2 separate regions of the Homo sapiens genome follow, and region 1 is linked to region 2. The links come from fine-mapping of genetic effects on gene expression. Tissue or cell type: whole blood. Region 2 holds a variant in brackets; the other region holds the start of a gene. All regions are shown on one strand. Distances are from middle to middle.

Region 1 (8,274 bases), 37 kb after region 2:
GTCAGGAGTTAAGACCAGCCTGGTCAACATGGTGAAACCCCATCTCTATTAAAAATACAAAAATTAGCTGGGCATGGTGGTGCATGCCTGTAATCCTAGCTACTCGGGAGGCTGAGGTGGGAGAATTGCTTGAACTCGAAAGGCGGAGGTTGAAGTGAGCTGAGATCGCACCACTGCACTCCAGCCTGGGTGACAGGGCGAGACTCCATCTCAAAAAAAGAAAAAAAGAAATAAAATAAAACAAAATAAACAAATAAGTTTAAACAGTACCGTACTGGATAGCATAGACATAGAGGACCACTCAAGAGTTATCAGGAAGTCAGGGTCCCTACGCTTTGAAGACTCCAGGTATAACATACATGTGTTACCTAGAAGCCTTCTCTCCTCCCACAGGAGTCCATTATCAAGGTCACCTTCACGGATGAGGCCCTTAATGCTAGGCAGTAACAGGCTTGGGGTAGGAAAATGGGACAGAAAAACACAGAAGTAGTGAGATGTGGCTAGGCAGGAAGAGTGCTAGCGGATGGGGCCCCTGACACTAAGGAAGCGGTGGGAAAGGCGTGAGGCTTTGAAGACCCTCTCCAAGGGGCCCAAGGCTTCAGAAAAAAAAAAAAAAAAAAAAAGCGATTTTTGCCCACACAATGGGAATCACAGAATAAAGTTTCTAGAAAAGACCTCCACAATTATTGTTGAGATATAAGACTTTTGCCTAAAGATATAAGACTATTATCTGACATGGTCGAAAGTCTTTGAAAGAGAAGGTGAAACGGAATGATTAAGAATAGAGAACTCACTGGGCATGGTGGCTTACATCTGTAATCCCAGCATTTTGGGAGGCTGAGGCAGGCGGATCACCTGAGGTCAGGAGTTCGAGACCAGCCTGACCAACATGGTGAAACCTCGTCTCAAGTAAAAATACAAAAATTAGCCAGGCGTGGTGATGGGTGCCTGTAATCCCAGCTACTTGGGAGGCTGAGGCAGGAGAATGCCTTGAACCCAGGAGGTGGAGTTTGCAGTGGACCATGATTTCACCACTGTACTCCAGCCTGGGCAACTGAGTGAGACTCTGTTTCAAAAAAAAAAAAAAGAATAGAGATCTCAAAAATTAAAAAATTAAAAGATACTTCCTGTTGACCAGGTCTAAAAATAAATAAAAAATAAAAAAAGAATAAAGCTCGCAGTAACATACTTTCCAGGTTCTTAAGTGTTCACAAGGATCATGGAGAGCCCCTCATAGAACCAGAAAGCACCCTATAAATTATAGGGGCTCCAAGGAACAGGCACTCTACTTACCGACAATCGTGAAGCTGAAGTCACGACTGTATTTTGAACAGCTGGTAACTTGGGCTTTGCATTTGTAGGGGCCTGATTCATGGGCTTCTGTGATGCTTAGGTTAAAAATCGCAGGTTCACCTTTTCCATCCTGGGTTCCCAGGTGTGTCTTACGTCGAAACAATGAATAGGTGATCTGCAGTGATTTGTTCTTATGGGAACAAAACATAGATACATTTTGACCCTTCATAACCACCTTAGTCTTTGAGTCCAAACATGGAGAAGGGAATTCTGAAAAACAAAATGACACAAGAAAAAGTCCTTCTTAAGATCCTGGCCGGGCAAGGTGGTTCACGCCTGTAATCCCAGCACTTTGGGCGGCCGAGGCAGGTGGATCACTTGAGGCCATGAGTTTGATACCAGTCTGGGCAACATGGCAAAACCCTGTCTCTACTAAAAATACAAAAATTAGCTGGCATGGTGGTGGGCACCTGTAATCCCAGCTACTCAGGAGGCTGAGGCAGGAGAATTGCTTGAACTAGGGAGGCGGAGGTTGCAGTGAGCCAAGATCATGCCACTGCACTCCAGGCTGGGTGACAGAGTGAGACTACCTCAAAAAATAAAAATAATAATAAATAAAAAGTTCTTGAAGTTGGGTGTGGTGGTTGACGCCTATAATCCTAGCACTTTGGGAGGCTGTGGTGGGAGGGTCACTTGAGGTCAGGAGTTCGAGAACAGCCTGGGCAACAAGTGAGACCTCGTCTCTAATTTTTAAAAAACAAAACAGAACAAAAAAAAAAAAAAACATAGCTGGGACCAATGGATGGCTTGGGTGGAAGACAGATTTAGACTCTTCAAAAATGCTTTTAAAAATGCAGTAAACTCTCCTCCCACTCTTTGATCTGGACAATTAACATTTTCTCAGTCTTATATAAGCTCAACTTTTTTTTTTTTTTGAGACAGAGTCTCACTCTGTTGCCCAGGCTGGAGCGCAGTGGCACCATCTTGACTCACCACAGCCTCCACCTTCCAGGCTCAACTGATCCTCCTGCCTCAGCCTCCTGAGTAGCTGAACTATAGGCACACACCACCATGCCCAGCTAATTTTTGTAGTTTTGGTAGAGACAGGGTTTCACCATGTTGTCCAGGCTCGTCTTGAACTCCTGACCTCAAGTGACTGCCTGCTTCAGCCTCCCAAAGTGCCGGGATTACAGGTGTGAGTCACTGTGCCCCGCCATATAAACTCAACTTTAAGACAAGACCTAAACTACCTTTCCAACCAAATAGCCATCCCTAAGTTTTTTTTATCTAGGAATGCTAGAGCTTTTGTGGCCAGTAAACATGAAAAAGATGCTCAACTTCACAAGTAATGAGGCAACTGCAAATTAAAACAACACTGAGATATCATTTTTCACTCATCAGATTGGTACAAAGTTTAAAAATGATTGGCCAGGCATGGTGGCTCATGCCTGTAATCCCAGCAATTTGGGAGGCTGAGGCAGGCAGATCTCTTGAGTCCAGGAGTTCGAGACCAGCCTGGGCAAATGGTGAAACCCTGTCTCTACTAAAAATACAAAAATTAGCTGGGCATGATGGTGCGTACCTGTATGGCACTACTCAGGAGGCTGAGGTGGGAGGATCAATTGAGCTTGGAAGGTCGAGGCTGCGGAAAGCTAAGATCGCACCACTGCACTCCAGCCTGGGCGACAGAGCAGAGACTCTGTCTCAAAGAAAGAAAGAAAAAAAAAAACCCTAAATAAAATTTAAAAGTAAAAGTGATTATATCCACCACTGGGGAGTGGGTGGGGAAACTCACCCACCGTTGGTGACTGATAGGATACGATCAGCCTTGTTGGGAGGGCAACTTAGCAGGGTCTGTAACAATTTAAATGTGTATGCCCTATGACCTTGCAATTTCAATTCTAGAATTTCATTCTACAGAGATGCTTTCAAGCTCTCATGCATCCACAAAGGACGTTGTGTACAAGGATGTTTATTGTAGCATTGTTTATATTGCCCCCAAAAAGCAGGGCAATAAATAAGGATGGTTAAACGAATCATGGCTGAGTCTTAAAATACCATGCAGCTGTTGAAAAAGAGGAGCTAAGGCTGGTGTGGTAGCTCATGCCTGTAACCCCAGCACTTTGGGAGGCAGAGGCAGGAGGATCACGAGGTCAAGAGTTCAAGAACAGCCTGGCCAACATGATGACACCCCGTCTCTACCAAAAAACAATACAAAAATTACCCAGGCATGGTGGCACGTGCCTGTAATCCCAGCTACTCGGGAGGCTGAGGCAGGAGGATCCCTTGAACCCAGGAGGCGGAGGTTGCAGTGAGCCGAGATTGTGCCACTGTACTCCAGCCTGGGCAACAAGAGTGAAACTCTGTCTCAAAAACAAACAAACAAAAAAAGATAACGAATATAAAGTGACTGTTGATAACGGCTGCTTCTGGATAGGAAGGGGAGAAGAATTGGAGGAGGATTGTAACAGAACTTTTACATTTTATACAGTAACAACCACCACCTTGGCTATCACTTACGGATGGTTTACCATATGCCTGGCACTGTGACGAGGAGCAGGGATTGTCTCATTTGATCTGCACACTAGCCTACCAGGTAGGTGCTTTTATTAGCCCACTTCACAGATGAAATAAATTACAGTGTCTCACGCCTGTAATCCCAGCACTTTGGGAGGCCAAGGTGGGCGGATCACGAGGTCAGGAGATCGAGACCATCCTGGCTAACGATGTGAAACCCCGTCTCTACAAAAAATACAAAACATTAGCCAGGCTTGGTGGCACACGCCTGTAGTCCCAGCTACTCGGGAGGCTGAGGCAGGAGAATCACTTGAACCTGGGAGGCAGAGGTTGCAGTGAGCCGAGATTGCACCACTGACTCCAGCCTGGGCGACAGACTGAGACTCCATCTCAAAAAAAAAAAGAAAGAAAGAAAGAAAGAAAGAAATTAAGGTCAAACTGGGTATGTCATGAGCTCAGGCTGCTGGCTAGTAACTAGTAGAACCAGAGGTTAGACCACTTCCCAATGTATATTTCTAGTGTTGCTTGAATTATTTCACAATAATTCTGTGGGTTTTTTTATTTTGTTTTATTTTTTTAAGAAACGAGGTATCACTATGTTGTTCAGGCTGGTCTCAAACTCCTGAGCTCAAGCAATCCTACCCCATTAGCCTTCCAAAGTGCTGCGATTACAGGCCGGAGGCACCACACCCAGCCTGTGTGTTGGCTTTCTAGTTAAAACACAACAACCATAAAACAACAATAACAAGGAAAGTTAGAAAACTTTCATTGTGAAAACAAATTTCATTATTTTTCTCACTGAGTCTCAGAAAAAAATGCTGCAATCCCCTCCCTAAAATCATTTTATTTTAAATGATAGATAATTGAAAAGACTGTTCTTTGGTTGTTCATAAAAGCTCAGAAACACTTTTGAATGGACGCTTATGTTGCAATCAGACTGTCTCACCACTTCAGTGAAAATGGTTTCAATAAGAAAGAAGTAAATGAAACTTACCATTTGTTTTCATTGCCTCACAATCCAATACAGCTTTTCTACCTGAAACAGAAAAGGAACACGATAAAGCTCACTTTCCACATGACACGTTGGCTTGGAGGTTCGAGCCTCAGAATGATAAGGGGGGCTTACAAGTGACAGAAGAAAATATGCTCCAGAAGAGGAGCCTGTTCAAATGGCTCCACATTCTCCCAGTTGAAGTCCAAGACGGGGTCAGAAGGCATAGTAGAACCACAGTGGTGAGTAACTCGGAGAACTTCCTCTTTTTCTTAGCCAAGTTAAGGAAATCAGAGGGTTTGGATGAGGTTTGCATAATACTGGTTTGTTCGACCAATCTGTCTTCCTCTGTGAGTTCCTGTAAGAAGAGAGATATTTGGTAGATTGCCACTCCCCCGCCCCCCCCACCCCCCCACACCCCCACATCGTCCCATGCTGGCTGGGAAAGAGAAGAGGTAAATCTGACTGTTACATTGTCTATGTAAACCCATCTGATCTCCTTGCTCTGGACTCAGTCTATGCCAAAAGGAGTTTGGTGGAAGTTTGATTTAGTCTTTGGAAGCAAACCGACTGTCTTAAGCAGATACATACAAATATTGTATCAAAAATGCCTGCTTTTTTTTTTTGAGACTGGCCTCACTCTGTCACCCAGGTTGGAGTGGAGTGCTGTGATCATAGCTCATTGCAGCCTCAAACTCCTGGGCTCAAGTGCTCGTCCCACCTCAGGCTCCTGAGTAGCTGGGACCACAGGTGTGCACCATCAGGACTGGCTAATTATTTTTATTTGTAAAGACAGGGGTCTAGTTGCCCAGGCTGGTGTTAAACTCCTGAGCTCAAGTGATCCTCCCGCCTCAGCCTCCCAAAGTGCTGGGATTACAGGTGTGAGCTACTGTGCCTGGCCAAAAATGCCTGCTTTTGTTAAACGTTGATTCCTAGACCCCACTCCAGACTTACTGGGTTTCAAGTCCAGGACGCTGATTTTTTTTTTTTTAAACAAGGGCCCTGAGCAATTCTTACGCACAGTGAAGGCTGAGAAATATCTGTACAAGGTGCTGCTGCCTCAGTGATTTCTGAATCAAGGGAGCCTTGGGGACTTGATATTACGGCAAGCCCTCCAGTGCCAGGAGATCTGAAGTAGGAGTTACCTTAGATCAGCCTTTGAAATAGAACGTGCAGGCTGGGTGCGGTGGCTCATGCCTGTAATCCTAGCACTTCGGAAGGCTGAGGCAGGCGGATCACCCGAGGTCAGGAGTTTGACACCAGCCTGGCCAACACAGCGAAATCCCATCACTAGTAAAAATACAAAAAACTTAACTGGGTGTGGTGATGCGTGCCTATAATTCCAGCTACTTGAGGGGCTGAGGCAGAAGAATCGTTTGAACCCGGGAGGTGGAGGTTGCAGTGAGCCAAGATTGCACCACTGCACTCCAGCCTGGGTGATAGAGCAAAACTCTGTCTCAAAAAAAAAAAAAAAAAGTCAGTTGAAATAGAATGTGCAGAGCCACTTCTTGATGGAGTGGAGATCACCAAAAGGATAGAAAGGTATGACTATAGGGCTAGGTGGGCAAGACAGCTGGTTGACACTTGCAAGAATTGACAGGTCCACCAAGAGAGGAAGCAAGGAGTTGAATGGCTGGGGCAGCCTTGAGCTGGGACATTCATCTCTGTACCTTAGGTCCCAAGATGTAACCAAATCCTTCCTTATTGACTCAGCGTCACCTAGCTAGCATCCTCTAGCTAGGAGGTTTGATACTGAATCTTGCTCTGTCTCCCAAGCTAGAGCACAGTGGCACCATCTTGGCTCACTGCAATCTCCACTTACCAGAATCAAACTATCTTTCCACCTCAGCCTCTCTAGTAGCTGGGACCACAGGCACAAACCACCATACACTACTAGGTTTTTAACTTTTTTATAGAGATGAAGTCTCACTATATTGCCCAGGCTGGTTTTGAACTCCTGGGCTCAAGCGATTCTCCTGCGTGTGGCCTCCAAAAGTGCTAGGATTACAAGCATGAACCACCATGCCCCACCCTTACTACAACAACTTTACAGCACTTTATAAAAGTTTGGATGGGTGAACTGTCAGATACATGTGCAAAATTCCATCAACTTTTTCTTTTCTTCACGTCTGCAATGTTTTTCATCAGCATCCTGTCACTTTTTGGCTACCACTGCTGGCCAGCTGGAAAAGAACAGACAACCATAGAATCATTCCCCGCACCCACATTTTCTTTCTCTCTCTTTTTTTTTTTTTTTTTTTGAGATGGAGTCTCGCTCTGTTGCCCAGGCTGGAGTGCAGTGGCGCTATCTCGGCTCACTGAAACCTCCACCTCCTGGGTTCAAGGGATTCTCCTGCCTCACCCTCCCAAGTAACTGGGATTACAGGTACGTGCCACCACACCTGGCTAAATTGTGTATTTTTAGTAGAGACGGGATTTCACCCCATTGGCCAGGCTGGTCTCGAACTCCTGACCTCAGGTGATCTGCCTGCCTCGGCCTCCCGAAGTTGTGGGATTACAGGCGTGAGCCACTACCCCCGGCTCCACATTTTCATATAGACCCATGGAAATGGTTTCTCTATCAGATCCAGTACAAATTGCAGACAAGTCTGGCAATGGAAAAAATATATATTGGCAACTTCTAGTATTTTCAAACTGGAGTAATAGCTGCAGTGGCGCCATCTCGGGCCACTGCAACCTCCACAGTTCCCAGGTTCCCAAGTAGCTGGGATTACAGGCACTTGCCACCACGCCCAGCTAATTTTTTTAATTTTTACTAGAGATGAGGTTTCGCCATGTTGACCAGGCTGGTCTCAAATTCCTGATCTCAAGTGATCTACCCACCTCAGTCTCCCAAAGTGCTGAGACTACAGGCATGAGCCACTGCACCTGGCCTCACACATTCTATTTCAAAGGCTGATCTGAGTTTACTCCTACCTCAGTTCTCCTGGCACTGGAGGGCTTGCCATAATAACAAGACTTCAAGGCTGCCTTGATTCAGAACTGCACTTTTGAAAGACACTGTCTCAAAAAAAAAAAAAAAAGAATTTTTAATGGTGATGTAGAAGAACATTTCATGATGTGGTAAGAGAATCACAATATACTTAAGAAAAGAGAAAAGGTATTATTAACAGTTGTAATAACATAAATCATTTTTCTAAATAAGAAAGTGCATAATTTGTATACATAGAAAAACTATCTGGAGGCCGGGCACAGTGGCTCATGCCTGTATTCTCAGCACTTTGGGAGACTCATAATGAGACTTTGTCTCTAAATTAAAAAAGGAAAAGAAAGGAAAGGAAGAAAGAAAGAAAGAGAAAAACTATCTGGAAGGATATTTTCTCAAAATGTTAACAATAGCTATATCTGGAGAGTAGAATGTTATTTTTATTTTTTTTATTATTATACTTTAAGTTCTAGGGTACATGTGCACAATGTGCAGGTTTGATACATAGGTATACATGTGCCATGTT
Region 2 (8,000 bases):
AGGCGTGAGCCACTGTGCCTGGCCAGTATTTTCACTTTTTAAAAATTAAATTTCAGCAACCTGTGGTCCCAGCTACTCTGAATCCTGAGGCAGGAGGATTGCTTGAGGCCAGCAGTAGGAGGCAGCAGTGAGCTATGATTGTACCTGTGACTAGCCACTGCACTCTAACCTGGGCAACAGAATGAGACACATCTCAAAAAAAAATGTAAATTAGAATAAACTTTAAAATTTGTATTCGGGACTTGACTAGTTTCGCACATTTGCTGAATAAAAAGTATCGGACAATTTAAATTCTTACAGATAATTATGGGAGTTAAATTAGTGTTTATTTAAATATGTTAAGACAAACTTAAATTTTCTTTTCCAGTTTGCCATGAGTCCATCTAACTTCAGCAGCAGTGACTGTCAGGATGAAGAAGGCCGGAAAGGAAACAAACTTTACTACAATTTTCCCTGGGGAAAGGAGTTAATAGAAACCCTGTGGAACCTAGGAGATCACGAACTTTTACACATGTATCCTGGCAATGTGTCTAAATTACATGTATGTTTTACCTGGAGCTCCTATGTATTTTTTACCCAGATTCTCTATAATCATTTCCGAACCATTTGAGAATAAGGTGCAAACGTGGTGTCTTAACACTTCATTGTGTATTTTTCAGATGCAGAGACACTCACCTACATAACTACAATCCAGTCATCAAAATCAGGAAATTAACAGTAATCCACTATTGCCACAGAGCCCTACAAATTGAACTGATTATCTCAATAATGGCATTTATAGGTCCAAGATCTTGTCTTTCATGTAGTTGTCATATGCCTTTACACTCCTTCAAATGAACAATTCCTCTTGTCTTGCGTGACCTTGACATTTTTGAAGAGTACAGTCTAGTTAATCTGTAGAATATGCCTTGGCTGGGATCTGTCTGCTGTTTCCACGTGATTTATGTATTTTTGTCGGGAGTACTACAGAAGTGGTAGTACTGAGAAGCTCTCTTCTCAGTGTGTCATATGAGGAGTGTTACTGGTGATGTTAACTTTTATCATTTAGTTAAGATGGTTTCTACTAGATTTCTCCAGTGTAAAGCTAATAAATAGTTTGTATTTATTAATTAACGGCCAGGCGCAGTGGCTCACGCCTGTAATCCCAGCACTTTGTGAGGCCGAAGTGGGAGGATCATGAGGTCAAGAGATTGAGACCATCCTGGCCAATGTGGTGAAACCCCATCTCTACTAAAAATACAAAAATTAGCTGGATGTGGTGGCTTGCCCTTATAGTCTCAGCTACTTGGGAGGCTGAGGCAGGAGAATCGCTTGAACCCGGGAGGTGGAGGTTGCGATGAGCCAAGATCGTGCCACTGCACTGCAGCCTGGCGACAGAACGAGACTCTGTCTCAAAAAAAAAAAACAAAAAAATTAACTAGTAATTAATAAGTGTTGTGGGCAGATACTTTAAGATGATGCAGACAATTTCTTTGTCACCAAATTTTGCCTTACTGGTTGCAGCATCCATTGATGATTCTTGCCCAGATCAGTTACTAATGTGAGGTTTGCCAAATGGTGATTTTTTTTTTTCTTTATTTGAGACAGGATCTCACTCTATCACTCAGGCTGAAACACAGTGGTATGGTGATAGCTCACTGCAACCTCAAACTCTTGAGCTCAAGCAATCCTGCCTCAGCCTCCCAAGTAGCTAGGACTACAAGCATGTATCACCATGCCCGACTGATGGTTTAATATTTGTAGAGACGGGGTCTAGCTTTGTTGCCCGGGCTGGTCTCGAACTCCTGGGATGAAACAATCCCCCTGCCTCAGCCTCCCAAAATGCTTGGATTATAAGAATGAGTCACCATGTTTGGCCATGTCACCAAATTTTGCCTTACTGGTTGCAGCATCCCTTGATGATTCTTGCTCAAATCAGTTACTACGATGAGGTTTGCCAATGGTGTTTTTTTCCCCTTCCCTTTTTTTTTTTTTTAAAAAAAAACAAATTCCATCATTCCTTCTAGATTTACTGGTCAGCAATATACTGTAGAGCTTTTCCTTCTCCTCCATTTTTTTTTTAAATTGGTATTTCACAGATTACTTTCTCAGGGGGTTACAGTGTGTTACTGTCATTATTTATTTTGATGGTCAAATTGTCCTAGACTTGGCCAGTGTCCTTTTGACATATTTCCATCATTGTCTTGACGAGCACTTCCTTACCTTTTGTAGCAATATATTGTTCCAGGATCATCAGTGAGCCAAGACTGTGCTGCTGCACTCCAGCCTGTGCAACAGGATGAGACCATGTCTCAAAAAAAAAAAAAAAGAAAAAGAAAAAATATATAGCAAAAACATAGGAGTTTATATATAATGAGTAGAAAGTAGATTAATTTTTATTTTTTTATTTTTTGAGACAGCATCTCACTCTGTTGCCCAGGCTGGAGTGCAGTGTCGCGATTCCCAGGTTCAAGCAGTTCTTCTGCCTCAGCCTCCTGAGTAGCTAGGACTATAGGTGTGCGCCACCACGCCCGGTTAATTTTTGTATTTTTAGTAGAGACAGGGTTTCACCATATTGACCAGGCTGGAATTTTTAAATATGAATAACTAATGAAAAACTAGAAGGCTTATTAACTGGTGAACATTTTCCTTTAACTCCACCACCATCACACTTCATTTTGGGGTACTCAGCTCTCAAATGAAACTTATTGGTTATTATCATAGTTAACGAACAGCTCAACCTTGTGACTAGGGATTTAAAGATGATTTTTGTATTGTGGCTATTAGTGTCTTATTTTGTTCTTTTTTTTCTTTTGTATGAAGAATGGGGTCTCGCTATGTTGCCCAGTCTGGTCTTGAATTCCTGGGCTCAAGCTGTTCTCCTGCCTCTGCCTTTCTGAGTGCTAAGATTACAGGTGTGAACTACCATGCCCAGATTATTTTGTTCTTTTATTGGTATCATTTTCACTAATGAAGAGTTTTCCTATTGCAGAAATTTTTCTCTTCCATGACATTGTTCCTTTTCTGTTTCCAGAGTTCACAAAATTATTTATCATTAGTTGAACATGTTATAAAATATTAAGTAGAATTTCTGTCATTTAGTATGCTTTCTTGAAATGTTTCTGAGGCCATTTCTTTCTTTTTTTAAAATTATTTAATAGAGATGGGGTCTCGCTGTGTTGCTCAGGCTGGTCTTGAACTCCTGGGCTCAAGCAATCCTCCTGCCTTAGCCTCCCAAAGTGCTGGGATTATAGGCGTAAACCACTGCACCCAGCCTCTTAGGCCATTTT[G/TG]TATCTGTTTTTAGTTGATTTTATGGTTAATGTCCAAATATATTTTTTAGAGAACAGTGAAGCAGACCAATAAAGGCTGAAGAACAGTTAGGATAGAAAAGAATTTATTCTGGATAGTGTGAGAAATCAGATATTGTTGGAAGAGTTGCCACCAGATATCCTGACATTGTTGGATATCCAATTTTCAAAAAATTAGAAAACAATAAACAATCTTTTTTGTTTGTTTTAAATAGGGATGGGATCTTGCCATGTTGCCCAGGCTAGTCTCAAACTCCTGGGCTCAAGTGATCCTCCTGCCCTGGCCTCCCAAAGTGCTAGGATTACAGGAGTGAGTCACTGTGCCCAGCCTAAAGCATTCTTCATAAAGATTCAGATTTAGATTTTGTTTGATTCAAAGCGCACCACAGAATCTTTCAGTACTTGAGTTTGTCTTTTTTTTTTTTTTTTTTTTTTTGAGATGGTGTCTCACTCTGTCACCCAGGCTGGAGTATAGTGGCACAATGTCTGCTCACTGCAGCCTCCACCTCCTGGGTTCAAGTGATTCTCATGCCTCAGCCTGCTGAGTAGCTGGGATTACAAGCATGCACCACCATGCCCAGCTAATTTTTGTCTTTTTAGTAGAGGTGGGGTTTTACCATGTTGGCCAGGCTGGTCTCGAACTCCTGAACTCAAGTGATTCGTCCACCATGGCCTCCCGATGTGCTGGGATTACAGGCATGAGCCACTGCTCCCAGCCCAGTTTATCTTATTAACTATCAGTTCGACGATAACTGTGTGAAATACAACTGGTAGAATAGAGTCCCAGGTATCAGAAAGTTTACTGCCTTTGAGGGCAAATTCTTGTGAATCTTTAAAGTATCATATGCAATTCAAATAGGTTTAAAATGTCAGTACATATATGTATTAATGAAGACTGTGGTTGATCATGAATAATTAACAGAAGCTGAGGATTTAAATTTGTGGGGTTTTCTCTCTTTTTTTTTTGTTCTGTGACTCTAGCTAAAGGTGGTTATTTAAGTATTTTTAAAAATTACATGAATATCCAGGTGAACAATGATTTACAAAAAAAGAAAGATGAAAGTGGAACTGTTTTTATCCAAAACTTAAGAAATTTCTAGGATTGAAATTTTTAAGAAGTTTGAAATGATTCCTCTTCAGTTTAGAGAAGAAGTAAGTCTGTTTATCAATACTTAATTCATATCATGTACTATGTGTAGTTTGTTTTCATAATTATGGCTTTAATGCAAAAAGTAAGTTTTTGAAAGATTTCTTTTTTATGAAAATAACTTTACGTTTCAGAAAATTATACTCCAAACCCCTTTCCCTAAAGCACACCATTTTTTTCCCTAAGGCCTCTTTTGAATAATCAGCAAACAATTTTTACTTAAAAGTGTTACCTTTCGAGGTAGGGCGCAGTGGCTCACGCCTGTAATCCCAGCACTTTGGGAGGCTGAGGTGGGCTGATCACCTGAGGTGAGGAGTTTGAGAACAACCTGGCCAACATGGTGAAACCCCGTCCCTACTAAAAATAGAAAAAAATTAGCCAGACATGGTGGTGTGTGCCTGTAGTCCTAGCTACTCAGGAGACTGAGGCAAGAGAATCACTTGAACCCGGGTGGCAGAGGTTGGCAATGAGGTGAGATCATGCCATTGCACTCCAGCCTGGGTGACAGAGCGAGACTCTGTCTGTATTAAAAAAAAAAAAAGTGTTACCTTTCTGAATACTAACTCTGAGCTCGGAAGCATTAAAGAAATAGTCTGTAGGGCTATTGAAAAAATTGATGCCTAAGTCCCTCTCCAGTTGAGTTCGTTCAGAATCTCTGGGATAGAGCCCAACCAAGCACCATAGTTTTAAAATTCACATTTGGGCCTCGCTGATGAAACACTGAGCTCAGTGAGAGCAGAGAATGCATCTTTATCGTCTTCGTGGGCCCAGTGCCTACCACAGGCCTGGTACAGAGTGGGTGCTTTGTAAAATGAAACTTTACTTTTGTATTCTGATTGTGTAAGTCTAAAATATGTACTCAGGAGGCTGAGGCAGGAGAATCACTTGAACCTGGGAGGCAGAGGTTGCAGGGAGCTGAGATCATGCCACTGCACTCCAGCCTGGCCAGGTGACAGAGTGAGACTCCGTCTCAAAAACAAACAAACAAAAAAAGTTCTGTGAAATGATTATTTTTCTTCTGTTTTTCTGTGAAGGGCCGAGATGGACGAAAAAATGTGGTTCCTTGTGTTCTCTCTGTAAATGGGGACCTAGACCGAGGCATGCTGGCCTACCTCTATGATTCTTTCCAGCTGACAGAGAACTCCTTTACAAGAAAGAAAAATCTTCATAGAAAGGTGCTGTTGATATTTCAGAGATAGACTTGGGAAACTAAAAATATGGGTTTGTTTGTTCTTAATGTTAGTGTGCTCGGTTTCTAACATAAACTCTAAATAATAAATTTAGTGCATGTAGTCTAAGTATTTTTCAGTTTTTTTAGAATCTGGCCACAGGAATAAGAATCAGGTTCTCACAGAATAGAACAAGGCATCCCTAATAAGTAATCCCAAAGGCATTTCTGTTTAATTGTGAACAGACAGCTATCTCTATGACTCCTAGCCCCTGAACCTTTCCACTGTGGGCTTCCATTTGTATCAGAAGCTGAAGCATTGGTACATAGGAGGAAGAAAGACCCGGATCAGGGAGACCTGTGCTATTGACCTCTCTGCCCCAGGTGTCTGGCTTCTGGTCTTGTGCCACATGGCTGGTTCCTGGATCAGAGGAGCTAGATGTGGGCCTGGAAAGGCTGATTTTAGTGCATGAACATGCACTTGGAGCATGTTTATGGGTCAAAGAAAATCGAGAGGAGAAGTTGAAGTTATAGGAGAGAAAAGAAATGATTAATGGGGCAAGATGAAGGAAACCGGAGGGGTCAGGATGGGATCAAGAGCCCAAGTAGAAGAATGTATCTTGAAAAGGAGATATTTGAAACAGCAGGGAAGAAGAAAAAGGATAGTGAGATATAAAAAGGCTACTGGGCTTTTTGGTCTTTGAAGGACATTTTACTGATGCCCTCTATTTTCTCAGGGAGTTAGGAGGCACTATTAGTTTAAATGTGGAAGAGTGGGGGTTTAAATGGCACGAGTGGGGAATAGTCATATACCCTTTGAACATAAAAGGAAGCTGCCCCAAATCAAAAGTTTTAACAAATAATGTTGAGTGTTCAGCTGGGATTGGGAACCATGAGTTTGTAGGAAACCACTCTTCTTAGTTAAGTGATTTATTATACAGTGTTCATTTAGCCTGCTATAACCATAGAGAAGTCTGATTATAGAATTATTCTGGGGAATGGGGTTTATAAATGGTTTGTAGCTAACAAAAAAAGGAATCCTTTCTTTTTCTTACACTCCACTTCCAAACCATCAGCAAATCCTGTTTGACTCTAACTTCAAAACGTATCCTGAGTCTGACCACTTCCTAGCCTGTCTACTGCTACCACCCTGCTATAAGCCACCGCCACTCCTCCTCCCCTGATAGAGTGGCCCTGTTAAAAGGTGCATGTTGTGTTGCTCCTTTGCTCAGAACACTCCAGGAAAGCTTCTCATCTCACTCAGGAAAAACCGAAGCCCTCTTTTTGATCTGCTGTTCTCCACCTCACTCAGTCTGCTCCAGCAGCACTGACCTTGCTATTTCTAGAACATGCTGGAGATGCTGCCAGCTCAGAGCCCTGTCATTTGTATTCCCCATTGCCTAGAGTGCTCTTTCTTCATCATCCATGTCTCGTCCCCCCACCTTCTTTCGAGTGTTTGCTCAAGTGTCACCATAGGGAGAGAACCTTTTCTGACCACCTTAAAGTTGCTGAAAACCTCCCCCAGCCTGCCTCTTGCCAGCATGTTCCATCTTCTTCCTTTTTTAGCACCTACCACCTTCACATATATTATTTACTTATTTTTATTGTCTGTTTCTCCCTGCCACGAGAGACGGAGATTTTTACCCCTAGCACCTGGAACTGTTCCTGGTATCAGAGGCATTAAAATGTTTGTTGGATGGACTAATGAATGAGAAGAGAAGGCTGGGCTGAATGGCTCACGCCTATAATCCCAGCACTTTGGGAAGCCAAGGTGGGTGGATCATTCAGGTCAGGAGTTCGAGACCAGTCTGTCTGGGCAACATGGCAAAACTTCATCTCTACAAAAAAATACTAAAACTAGCTGGGCGTGGTGGCGTGCACCTGTAGTCCCTGCTACTTAGGAGGCTGAAGTGGGAGGATGGCTTGAGCCCAGAGGTGGGGGTTGCAGTGAGGCAGTGAGTGGAGCATTCTAGCCTGGGCAACAGAGCCAGACCCTTTAAAAAAAAAAAAAAAGCAAATTTCATTTAAAAATTTTTTTCATTCAAAAAAATATATATAAAAAGAGAAGAACAGTAGGTTTTGACAAGAGAGAGAAAGTTGAAATGGTAAGCCACGTGGCCCAGGCTGGTAGGGTCCAAAGTGATGCTGAAAGAAGCATTTTGACTGAGGGAGTTGTCAGAAAATGGGAGGGTCTCAAGTTAATTTGTTTTTTTTTTTTTTTGAGACAGGATCTCACTCTGTCGCCCAGACTAGAGTGCAGTGGCACGATCTTGGCTCACTGCAGCCTTGACCTCCCGGGTCAAGCATTCTTCCCACCTCAGCCGCCTGAGTAGCTGGGACTACAGGTATGCGCCATACCTAGCTAATTTTTTTGTATTTTTTTGGTAGAGAGAAGTTT

The links. PIP is the estimated chance that this variant, and not a neighbour inherited with it, causes the effect.
Region 1: it holds the start of MILR1, and the variant in region 2 is fine-mapped to the expression of MILR1 in whole blood (INTERVAL, PIP above 0.99).

The regions. Positions count from the first base shown.
Region 1 is chr17:64,445,886-64,454,159 of GRCh38, reverse strand. It overlaps MILR1 (mast cell immunoglobulin like receptor 1), which reads right to left and starts at 5,045. Exons shown (of 10, transcript NM_001085423.2): 1 at 4,937-5,045; 2 at 4,805-4,846; 3 at 1,294-1,563. The coding sequence starts at 4,991. RefSeq lists a silencer at 5,133-5,182.
Region 2 is chr17:64,483,337-64,491,336 of GRCh38, reverse strand. POLG2 (DNA polymerase gamma 2, accessory subunit) reads left to right here. Exons shown (of 8, transcript NM_007215.4): 4 at 368-541; 5 at 5,469-5,609. It also overlaps a transcript of MILR1 not described here. Among named protein-coding and RNA genes, the nearest start is that of POLG2, 9.7 kb to the left of the region's middle. RefSeq lists a silencer at 1,181-1,355. The variant G/TG (reference allele first, on the strand shown) is at 3,270.